2 separate regions of the Homo sapiens genome follow, and region 1 is linked to region 2. The links come from fine-mapping of genetic effects on gene expression. A gene starts in region 2. The other region holds a variant in brackets. All regions are shown on one strand. Distances are from middle to middle.

Region 1 (5,382 bases), 86 kb after region 2:
TGAAACCCCATCTCTACTAAAAATACAAAAATTATCCGGGTGTGGTGGTGTGCACCTGTAGTCCGAGCTACTCCAAGGGCTGAGGCAGAAGAACTGCTTGAACCTGGGAGGCAAAGGTTGCAGTGAGCCGAGATTGTGCCATTGCACTCCAGCCTGGGCGACAGAGTGAGACTCGGTCTCAAAAACAAAACAAAAGGACAGGGTCTCACTGTGTCACCCAGGCTGAAGGGCAGTGGTGCAAACATCTTGGCCCACTGCAGCCTCAAATTCCTGGCCTCAAGCGATCCTCGGCCTCTCAAAGCAATGGGATTACAGGCGAGATCCATCAGTTTTTTCTTTTTTTTTTTTTGAGACAGAGTTTTGTTCTTTTGCTCAGGATGGAGAGCAGTGGTGCAATCTCAGAATCACCGCAACCTCTGCCTTCCAGTTTCAAGCTATTCTCCTGCCTCAGCCTCCCGAGTAGCTGGGATTACAGGTGCCCGCCACCACGCCTGGCTAATTTTTTTTTTTTTTTTTGAGATGGAGTCTCGATCTGTTGCCCAGGCTGGAGAGCAGTGGCGCAATCTCTGCTCACTGCAAGCTCCACCTTCTGGGTTCATGCCATTCTCCTGCCTCAGCCTCCCGAGTAGCTGGGACTACAGGCGCCCGCCACCACATCTGGCTAATTTTTTGTATTTTTTTTAGTAGAGACGGGGTTTCGCCGTGTTAGCCACGACGGTCTTGATCTCCTGACCTCATGATCCACCCGCCTCAGCCTCCCAAAGTGCTGGGATTACAAGCGTGAGCCACTGCACCCGGCTTTTTTTCTCTTTTTTTGAGATGAAGTCTCGTTCTGTCGCCCAGGCTGGAGTGCAGTGGCGCAATCTCGACTCACTGCAACCTCCGCCTCCCGGGTTCAAGCAGTTCTCCTGCCTCGGCCTCTGGAGTAGCTGGGATTACAGGTGTGCACCACCACACCCAGCTAATTTTTGTATTTTTAGTAGAGACAGGGTTTCACCATGTTGGTCAGGCTGGTCTCAAACTCCTGACCTTGTGATCCACCTGCCTCAGCCTCCCAAAGTGCTGGGATTACAGGCATGAGCCACCACGCCCGGCGAATTTTTGTATTTTTAGTACAGACGGGGTTTCAATGTGTTGGCCAGGCTAGTCTCGAACTGCTGACCTCGTGAGCCACCCACCTCGGCCTCCCAAAGTTCTGGGATTAGAGGTGTGAGACACCATGCCTGATCAATTTTAAAATCGGGAACAAAGAACACTGAGTGCTGCCAGTTACCTGCGGTGGCTCCACCTGCAGGGTCAGACTCCACCTCTGGGACTCTGCATCCGCCTCCCTTCCCGGCTGGGCACGTCTTAGGGCAGCTGTCACACCAGCCTCAGGCGAGGGCCAGGCCACGGCTGCCACATGGAATGCACATCCTGGATCCTCCGTGGTGGCTTCTCCCTCCTCACCAAGGGAGGTCGGCTGTTACATGTAACATTTCTACCTTGGTTATAATTACAAATTTGATGTACGCAATTATGATAGAAAAATCGGCTGGGTGCGGTGGCTCACTCCTATAATCCCAGCACTTTGGGAGGTGGAGGCAGGAGGTTTAAGCCCAGGATTATGGAGACCAGGCGGGACAATATAGCAAGACCCAGTCAAAAATAAAAAAATAAGGCCAGGCTCACCCCTATAATCCCAGCATTTTGGGAGGCCAAGGCAGGCAAATCACCTGAGGTCAGGAGTTCGAGACCAGTCTGGCCAACATGGTGAAACCCCCATCTCTACTAAAAATACAAAAATTAGCTGGGGATGGTGGCATATGCCTGTAATCCCACCTATTCAAGAGACTGAGGCAGGATAATCTCTTGAACCTAGGAGGCAGAGGTTGCAGTGAGCCAAGATCACACCACTGCACTCTAGCCTGGGTGACAGAGTGAGACTCTATATTAAAAAAAAAAAAGCCAGGCGTGGTGGCTCACCCCTGTAATCCCAGCACTTTGGGACACTGAGTGGGGGCGGATTACCTGAGGTCGAGAGTTCAAGACCAGCCTGGCCAACATGGAGAAATCCCATCTAAAAATACAAAAATTAGCCGGGTATGGTGGTGCACGCCTGTAATCCCAGCTACTCGGGAGGCTGAGGCAGGAGAATCGCTTGAACCTGGGAGATGGAGGTTGAGGTGAGCCAAGATTGCAGCATTGCACTCCAGCCTGGGGAACAAGAGTGAAACTCTGTCTCAAAAACAAAATAAAAAACAAAAATAAGGCTGGGCATGGTGGCTCATGCCTGTAATCCTACCACTTTGGGAGGCTGAGGTGGGCAGATGACCTGAGGTCGGGAGTTCAAGACCAGCCTGACCAACATGGAGAAACCCCAGCTCTACTAAAAATACAAAATTAGCCGGGCATGGTGGTGGGCACCTGAACTCCCAGCTACTCTGGAGGCTGAGGCAGGAGAATCACTTGAACCCAGGGGGCGGAGGTTGCGATGAGCTGAGATCGTGCCATTGTATTCAGCCTGGGCAACAAGAGCAAAACTCCCTCTCAAAAATAAATAAATAAATAAAAATAAAAATAAAAAAATTAGCTGGGCATGATGGTGCACGCCTGAAGTCCCAGCTACTCTGGAGGCTGAGGCAGGAGAATCGCCTGAACCCAGGAGGCAGAGGTTGCAGTGAGCTGAGATTGCACCATTGCACTCCAGCCTGGGTGACAAAGCAAGACTTTGTCTCAAAAAAAATAAATAAAAATAAAAATTAGGCCAGGTGTAGTGGTGCACACTTGTGATCCCAGCTAGGAAAGGCTGTGACAGGATGGCCTGAGCCTGGGAGGGGAGGACGAGTATGAGCGTGAGAATGATTGTGAAAGGATGACTATAAATTGAGTGTGAATTAGTGAATTGGTGAGTGTGAAGTAGTGCAGATGGGTGTGAATTCGTGAGACTGTGTGTGAATGAGTGTGGATGGGTGTGAACTGGTGATTGTGCATTTGTGAATTGGTGTGAATTGTGTGGTGTGGATGAGTGTAAACGGGTGTGTAAATTAGTGAATTGGTGAGTGTGAAGTGGTGTGGATGAGTGGATGGATGTGAATGGGTGAGAGAATGAATGAGTGGATGAGTGTGAACTGATGAGTGTGAATGGGCGAGTGTGAATGTGTGAATGGGCGAGTGTGAATGTAAATGAGTGTGAATGGATTGGTGTGCGTGAATGAGTGTGAACGAATGTGGATTGGTGTGTGTAAATGGGTGTGTGAATGTGTGAATGGGTGTGAATGAGTGGATTGGTGTGAATGGGTGAATGACTGGATTGGTGACTGTGAATGTGAATAAATGTGAATG[AGTGTGATTGAATGAGT/A]GTGAATTAGGGTGAATGGGCGAGTGTGAATGTGTGAATGAGTGGATTAGTGTGGATGGGTGTGAAAGGGTGAGTGAGTGAATTGATTAGTGAGGATTGGTGAGTGTGAATGTGGGTGAGTGTGGATGGGTGTGAAGGAATATGAATTAGTGTGAGAACGAGTGTGAAATGAGTGTAAATGAGTGGGAATTAGTGAATTGGTGTGAAGTGTGGATGAGTGTGGATGGGTGTTAATTGGTGAGTGTGAATGTGTGGATGGGTGAATTAAATTGGTGAGTGTAAATTGGTGTGTGTAGTGTGAATAAGCGTGTGGATGAGAGTAAACAGGTGACTGAGTGAATTGGTGTGAAGTAGTGTGGATGAGTGTTAATTGGTGACTGTGTTAAAGCGTGGGTGTGAATTGGTGTCTGAATGGATTGGTGAGTGTGAATTGGTGAGTTGGTGTGAATTGGTGAGTGTGAATTGGTGAGTGAATTGGTGAGTTGGTGTGAATTGAATTGTGTGAATGAGTGGATTGGTGAGTGAATTGGTGAGTTGAATTGGTGTGTGTAGTGGATGAGTGTGGATGAATGTGAATTGGCGAGTATGGATGTGTGAATTGGTGAGTGTGAATGTGTGGATTGGTGAGTGAATTGGTGAGTTGAATTGGTGTGTGTAGTGTGGATGAGTGTGAATTGGCGAGTGTGGATGAGTGTGAATTGGTGAGTGTGTGAATGTGGATTGGTGAGTGAACTGGTGAGTTGAATTGGTGTGTGTAGTGTGGATGAGTGTGGATGTGTGGATGAGTGTGAATTGGTGACTGTTGAGTGTGGATGTGTGAATTGGTGAGAGTGAATGTGTGAATTGGTGAGTGTGAATGTGTGGATTGGTGTGTGTAGTGCGAATGAGTGGATGAGTGAATTGGTGACTGTGTGGATGAGTGTGAATTGGTTGTGGATGTGTGAATTGAGTGAATTGGTGAGTTGAATTGTGTGTAGTGTGAATGAGTGGATGAGTGTGAATTGGTGACTGTTAGAGCGTGGATGAGTGTGACTTGGTGTATGAATGAGTGTGGATTGGCGAGTGTGAATGAGTGTGGATTGGTGAGTGAATTGGTGAGTTGAACTGGTGTGTGTAGTGTGGATGAGTGTGAATTGGTGAATGTCGATAGGTGTGAATTGTTGAGTGAGTGTATGAATGAGTGTGGATGGGTGTGGATTGGCACGTATGAATTGGTGAATGTGAACTGGTGAGTGTGAATTAGTGTAAATTCAGTTCAGTGGATCAGGAGCAACTTATTTTTTATTTATTTTTTGAGACGGGGTCTCACTCTGTCCCCCAGGCTGGAGTGCAGTGGCACCATCTCGGCTCACTGCAAGCTCCGCCTCCTGGGTTCACACCATTCTCCTGCCTCAGCCTCCCGAGTAGCTGGGACTACAGGCGCCTGCGACCACGCCTGGCTAATTTTTTGTATTTTTGGTAGAGATGGGGTTTCACCGTGTTAGGCAGGATGGTCTCGATCTCCTGACCTCATGATCCGCCCACCTCTGTGCCCCAAAGTACTAGGATTACCGGCGTGAGCCACCACGCCCGGTCTTTTTCATTTTTATTTTTGAGACAGTCTCACTCTGTTGCCCAGGCTGGAGTGCAGTGGTGCGATCTTGGCTCACTGCAGGTCAACCTCCCAGGCTCAAGTGATCCTCCTACCTCAGCCTTCTGAGTAGCTGGGACCATAGGTGGGCACAACCACACCTGGCTTTTTTTTTTTTTTTTTTTTTTTTTTTTTTTTTGTAGAGATGGGGTCTTGCTCCATTGCCTAGGCTGGCTTTGACCTACCAGGCTCAAGTAATGCACCTGTTTCAGCCTCCTGAAGTGCGGGATTACAGGCAGGAAGGTGCAGCAAGACTAGAATAGGCAATATCTCAGTTTATTGTACTTATGAGAGATACTATTCTGTACAACTTTCAATGGTGGGTGTGTTCATCAGATAGCGGTGTAAAAAGATATTTCTTATTTTGTATCTTGATCAAAAAAGTCTGAAAGTAGGCTGGGTGTGGTATCTC
Region 2 (5,308 bases):
GCCGAGGCAGGTACATCACGAGGTCAGGAGATGGAGACCGTCCTGGCTAACATGGTGAAACCCCGTCTCTACTAAAATATACAAAAAATTAGCCGGGCGTGGTAGCGGGCGCCTGTAGTCCCAGCTACTCGGGAGGCTGAGGCAGGAGAATGGCCTGAACCCAGAAGGCAGAGCTTGCAGTGAGCCCAGATCGCACCACCGCACTCCAGCCTGGGGGACAGAGCGAGACTCCGTCTCAAAAAAAAAAAAATTTTTTACTTAAGTCACATGAAATTTGTTATTATGTACTAAATGTATGCATACTCCTTAAGCCACTTTGATACCTTGTGGCCACAAAACATGTATCAGAATCCACGCACGTACACATAAACACATCTAAACACACATATACACTCATCCAAAAACCCTACAGCTTTTGCTTTACACCTCTAACCATGACATATCAACACAAAGTCACTAGTTAGAAAAACAATAACAGAAAGAAACATCTAGATGCAAACTGTGGATGTCATCTCAGTAGAAAAGTAACAGCTGGTCAGGCACGGTGGCTCACAACTGTAATCCCAGCACTTTGGGAGGCCAAGGTGAGTGGATTGCCTCAGGCCAGGAGTTCAAGACCAGCCTGGCCAACATGGTGAAACCACGTCTCTACTAAATTTACAAAAACTAGCCAGGCGTGGTGGCGCACACCTGTAATCCTGGCTACTTGGAAGGCTGAGGCAGGAGAATCGTTTGAACCCAGGAGGCAGAGTTTGCAGTGCGCCGAGATCGCACCCCTGCACTCTAGCCTGGGCAACACAGTGAGACTCTACCTAAAAAAAACAAAAAGTGTAACAGCAGCTTTAAGGCAGGCAGCAAAGGAAACAGAGAGATAGAGAACTTAGGAACTCTATAGTTCTTTTTTTTTTTTTTTTTTGAAACAGAGTTTTGTTCTTGCAGCCCTGGCTGGGGTGCAATGGCACGATCTCAGCTCACTGCAACCTCCGCCTTCTAGATTCAAGCTATTCTCCTGCCTAAGCCTCCCAAGTAGCTGGGATTACAGGTGCATGCCACCACGCTCGGCTCATTTTTGTATTTTTAGTAGTGATGGGGTTTCACTCTGTCGGTCAGGCTGGTCTCGAACTCCTGACCTCAGGTGATCCGCCCGCCTTGGCCTCCAAAAGTGCTGGGATTACAGGCGTGAGCCACTGCGCCTGGCCAGGAACTCTATGGTTCTGTAGTTGCAGGCTGACCTTTGGGCTCTGAATTTTTCCTGGATGGAATTTGCCCATCAGTTTAAAATGTGCCCCAAAAGACCATAATATGGAACCAGCTGGGGCACTAGGAAACCCAGCATGCCCGCGACATGTTCAGTTTTATACCAACACTTGCAGGTAGAGGCGCCTGAAACCAGCGGGGTGCCTGGAAGGAGGTCGCCCTCTTGTCTTTGCTGAGGCTTACATTATTTATTTCCCACTTTTTTTTTTCTTGAAAGGAACCGAGCTGTGGCCTGGGGTTCCATGGAGCAGGTGGGGCGCGGAGGAACTGAGCTGTGGCCTGGGGTTCCGTGGAGCAGGTTGAGTATGGAGGAACTGGGGTTCCGTGGAGCAGGTGGGGCGCAGAGGAACCGAGCTGTGGAATGGGGTTCCGTGGAGCAGGTTGAGTGTGCCGGTCGTGGACGGGTCGTGGGCGGGACTCCCCAGTGTGTCACCACTGAGGCATCTTCGCCCTCTTACGTGTCTCTGTTTCTCTCTCTAGAAGTCCAACACCTCCGAGAGGACTCAAAACACAGAGTGACCAGCTCCTATGTGCATTTCCTGGACAAACCTTTTTTTTTTTTTTTTTTTTGAGACGGAGTCTCGCTCTGTCGCCCAGGCTGGAGTGCAGTGGCACGATCTCGGCTCACTGCAAGCTCTGCCTCCCGGGTTCACGCCATTCTCCCGCCTCAGCCTCCCAAGTAGCTGGGACTACAGGCTCCCGCCACAATGCCCGGCTAATTTTTTGTGTTTTTAGCAGAGACGAGGTTTCACCGTGTTAGCCAGGATGGTCTCGATCACCTGACCTCGTGATCCACCCGCCTCGGCCTCCCAAAGTGCTGGGATTACAGGCGTGAGCCACTGCACCCAGCAGACAAACCTTTTTAAACTAATTGTGTTGGGGGGTTCCCTGTGGGGCTGCTGCACGTCGTGGGGGATCAGCCCACGAGATACTCCCACTTGGCTCACAGTCACCCAGGGGCGCCTTTCAGCTGGGAGGAGCAAAATGCCTTTCTTTCTGGAGCTGAGAAAACTCAGTCTCTCATTTATCTATGCAAAGAACAATTCAGTTCCTCATGCAAATGCACGCACAAGCCAGTTGGGCTTAATTTTGGGAGAAAAAGCAACAGAGAAGACCCTTAGGAACGCACGTCCGAGCTAGAAACCAAATGGGGTACCCAAAAGGGAGTCGTTCTCCTTGTCTTAAGAAAAAGGTGGCCGGGCGCAGTGGTTCACACCCGTAATCTCAGCACTTTGGGAGGCCGAGGCAGGCGGATCACCAGGTCAAGAGATCAAGACCAGCCTGGCCAATATGGTGAAACCCCATCTCTACTAAAAAAATATACAAAAATTAGGCTGGGCGCAGTGGCTTATGCCTGTAATCCCAGCACTTTGGGAGGCCGAGGTGGGCGGATCACGAGGTCAGGAGATCGAGACCATCCTGGCTAACACGGTGAAACCCCGTCTCTACTAAAAATACAGAAAATTAGCCAGACGTGGTGGCGGGCGCCTGTAGTCCCAGGTACTCAGGAGGCTGAGGCAGGAGAATGGCGTGAACCCGGGGGGCGGAGCCTGCAGTGAGCCGAGATCGCGCCACTGCCCTCCAGCCTGGGCGACAGCGAGACTCCATCTCAATAAATAAAAAAAAAAAAGAGTTGTTATCAGTAGAAGGGAATGTCTGGTTACAGTATGGCGTTGTGCAGATGAAGGTCTTATCGCAGATGAAGCCACCAGGTCACAAGCCTCAGAGAGAATCAACTATAAATGCTTCTCATCAGACTCAAGGCCTGAGGTGATGCTGATGCTGTGCCTGAATTCCAGCAGGGAGGAGGCATGAGGTGCGTCCGACTCCCTTCCCATCACAGCTGAGCTAGTTTTTCAGGTTAACTTTGGAATGCCCATGGCTAAGACCAGGGGTCCATCCAGACAGTTCAGGGCTTATAATTTTATTTTTGGTTTATGAGGGAACCTAGAAGGCAGCCCACACGCACCTTACTCCTCCCAGCAGGGGACACCGGCCAGACCCCAAGCTCCACACTCCCACCCTCAGCACCCACCCAGGCCAGCAGCCGGGGGCACCTTGGTGCCACCTTAGTGCCTGTTCTGCGGAGGCTCCACTGGACAGTGCAGTTGATGCCCGGGGCCGAGGGGGCTCTGCCTGGGAGGCTGTTCACCTGCCTGGGTGCAGGACCCCAGAGGGACCCCAGGCCACCCCTGGCCTGCCCATGCCCACGGGAATCCCGACCTTGGGCTGCCTGTCTATTGCACCAGAACCGTCCCAGGGCTGACTCAGAGTGACCCTGAGTGGGGGACGCTCACCCCAGGGGAGGAAACGGGGCTCTGGGATAGGAGGTCCTGGCTGGGGTCCCACAGATGCCAGGCGCCTGCCATCTCCAGGGCAGTGCTGTCACAGAAGACAACACCGCTCCCTCGTTACCTGTGGCCCGGCCACCTCAGCGGCCCAAGGAGGTGAGCTCACAGCCATGCTCGGTCAATGGGGCCTGGCCGTCTTTCCTGGGAGAGAGCAGAGGCATGGGCCCAAAGGGAGCCAGGGATGCCTGCCCGTCCCTTCTCTCATTCAGGCTCACCTGGTCATGGTGCAGTGACCACAGGACCCCCACATGCCGGGAGCTGGGTTCGCCCCACCCCACCCCCTGCACCGGGCCAGCGAGGGGATGGCCCAGAAGAGGGGGAGGACCATGTGGATTCACCAGTGCTGGACATGTGCTCTGTGGCTACCCCCTCTGCCTACTCTCTGGCCCGATACAGGGGTGTGGGACAGGTGACTGAACCTCAGCCCTTAGAGGCCTTGCCCGGGAGGAGGGGAGGGGGGTGGAGCCGGGAGCTGCGTGATCCAGCCGAGATGTGCTCTGACTGAGGCCCTGCAGGGCATACGGGTCATGGAAGGGGTGCTCTGCCCCCGGCCAGGGCTCCCCCTCCTACAGGAAGCCGGGGGCCTTGCTCCTGCAAGCTGCCCTTTGGCTGGACCGGGCCCCACTGGCCGGACCTGGGCTCTTTCTCTCTCTGCACCCTGCACCAAGGCTGGGCTGTCTGCCAGGCCACTCCCGGGGACACAGGGAGGCACAGGCTGCTTCCAGCCACAATCTCTGGCAAGCACCTAGGACCTTGTCCCCGCCTGCCAAGTAGCCGCCCGGGCCATGTGTGCCCTGTCTCCTCGGCAGGTGCGGCCCACGCACAAAGCTGCCCAGATGTGGTGGGGGAGAAGCCCCAGGCCTGTGCTGTGTCCGGGGGCCCTGCCGCTGACCTGTGGGGTCTCTGTGACATCAGCAAGCCCCCTGCCGCGAGCTTGGAGAGGCACCCCAGCCCCATCTGGCACTCAAGGAAATCAGCTCAGAGAGGTTGAGTAACTCGGGAAGGCCACACAGCCAGTGACGAAGCTGTGATTCACACAGGCCTGGGTGACTCCAGCATGGCTTTCCTCTCCAGGACGTCACCGGTGGCAGCTGCTTCCTTCCAGAGCCGGCAGGCAGGTGACCTCACCCTCCTCAGAGCCATGGCTCTGCTGCTGGACCCTGTGGGGCTGGGCTCCCCCAGCCAAGCCCAGGGACCCAGCACCACTTGGGGCAGGATGTCAGGAACACAGAGCCTACCCTTCCAACCTGGGCCCGGCTCGGGTCTGGTCATTTGGGACAGTGAGGCCACCTGGATATCTAGGGTCCCACAGTAGACAGGGATGGGGTGGTCCTGGGGGACAGGGACACCTGCCTTCCACACAACCGCACTGGGGCTGAAGACGCCAGCCTGGGAGACTGTGATTTGGACCCTGACAGTAGCATGTGGTCTTAGCATGTGTGAGGTCTTAGCGTGTGTGGTCTTAGTGTGTGTGAGGTCGTAGCGTGTGTGAGGTATTAGCATACGTGTGTGGTCTTAGCATGTGTGGGGTCTTAGTGTGTTGTGAATCACTTTCTTTTTTTTTTTTTTGAGACGGAGTCTTGCTCTGTCGCCCAGGCTGGAGTGCAGTGGCACGATCTCGGCTCACTGCAAGCTCCGCCTCCTGGGTTCACACCATTCTCCTGCCTCAGCCTCCCCAGTAGCTGGGACTACAGGTGCCT

The links. PIP is the estimated chance that this variant, and not a neighbour inherited with it, causes the effect.
Region 1: its variant is the best candidate, but not a certain one, in a credible set for the expression of SCNN1D in esophagus muscle (GTEx, PIP 0.82).

Annotation. Positions count from the first base shown.
Region 1 is chr1:1,363,103-1,368,484 of GRCh38, forward strand. It overlaps a transcript of MXRA8 not described here. Among named protein-coding and RNA genes, the nearest start is that of MXRA8, 7.2 kb to the left of the region's middle. The variant AGTGTGATTGAATGAGT/A (reference allele first, on the strand shown) is at 3,325.
Region 2 is chr1:1,277,594-1,282,901 of GRCh38, forward strand. It overlaps SCNN1D (sodium channel epithelial 1 subunit delta), which reads left to right and starts at 2,843. Exons shown (of 18, transcript NM_001130413.4): 1 at 2,843-3,073; 2 at 3,633-3,704; 3 at 3,818-4,017; 4 at 4,649-4,722. The coding sequence starts at 3,069. It overlaps LINC01786 (long intergenic non-protein coding RNA 1786), which reads left to right. Exons shown (of 3, transcript NR_185846.1): 3 at 1,475-3,014.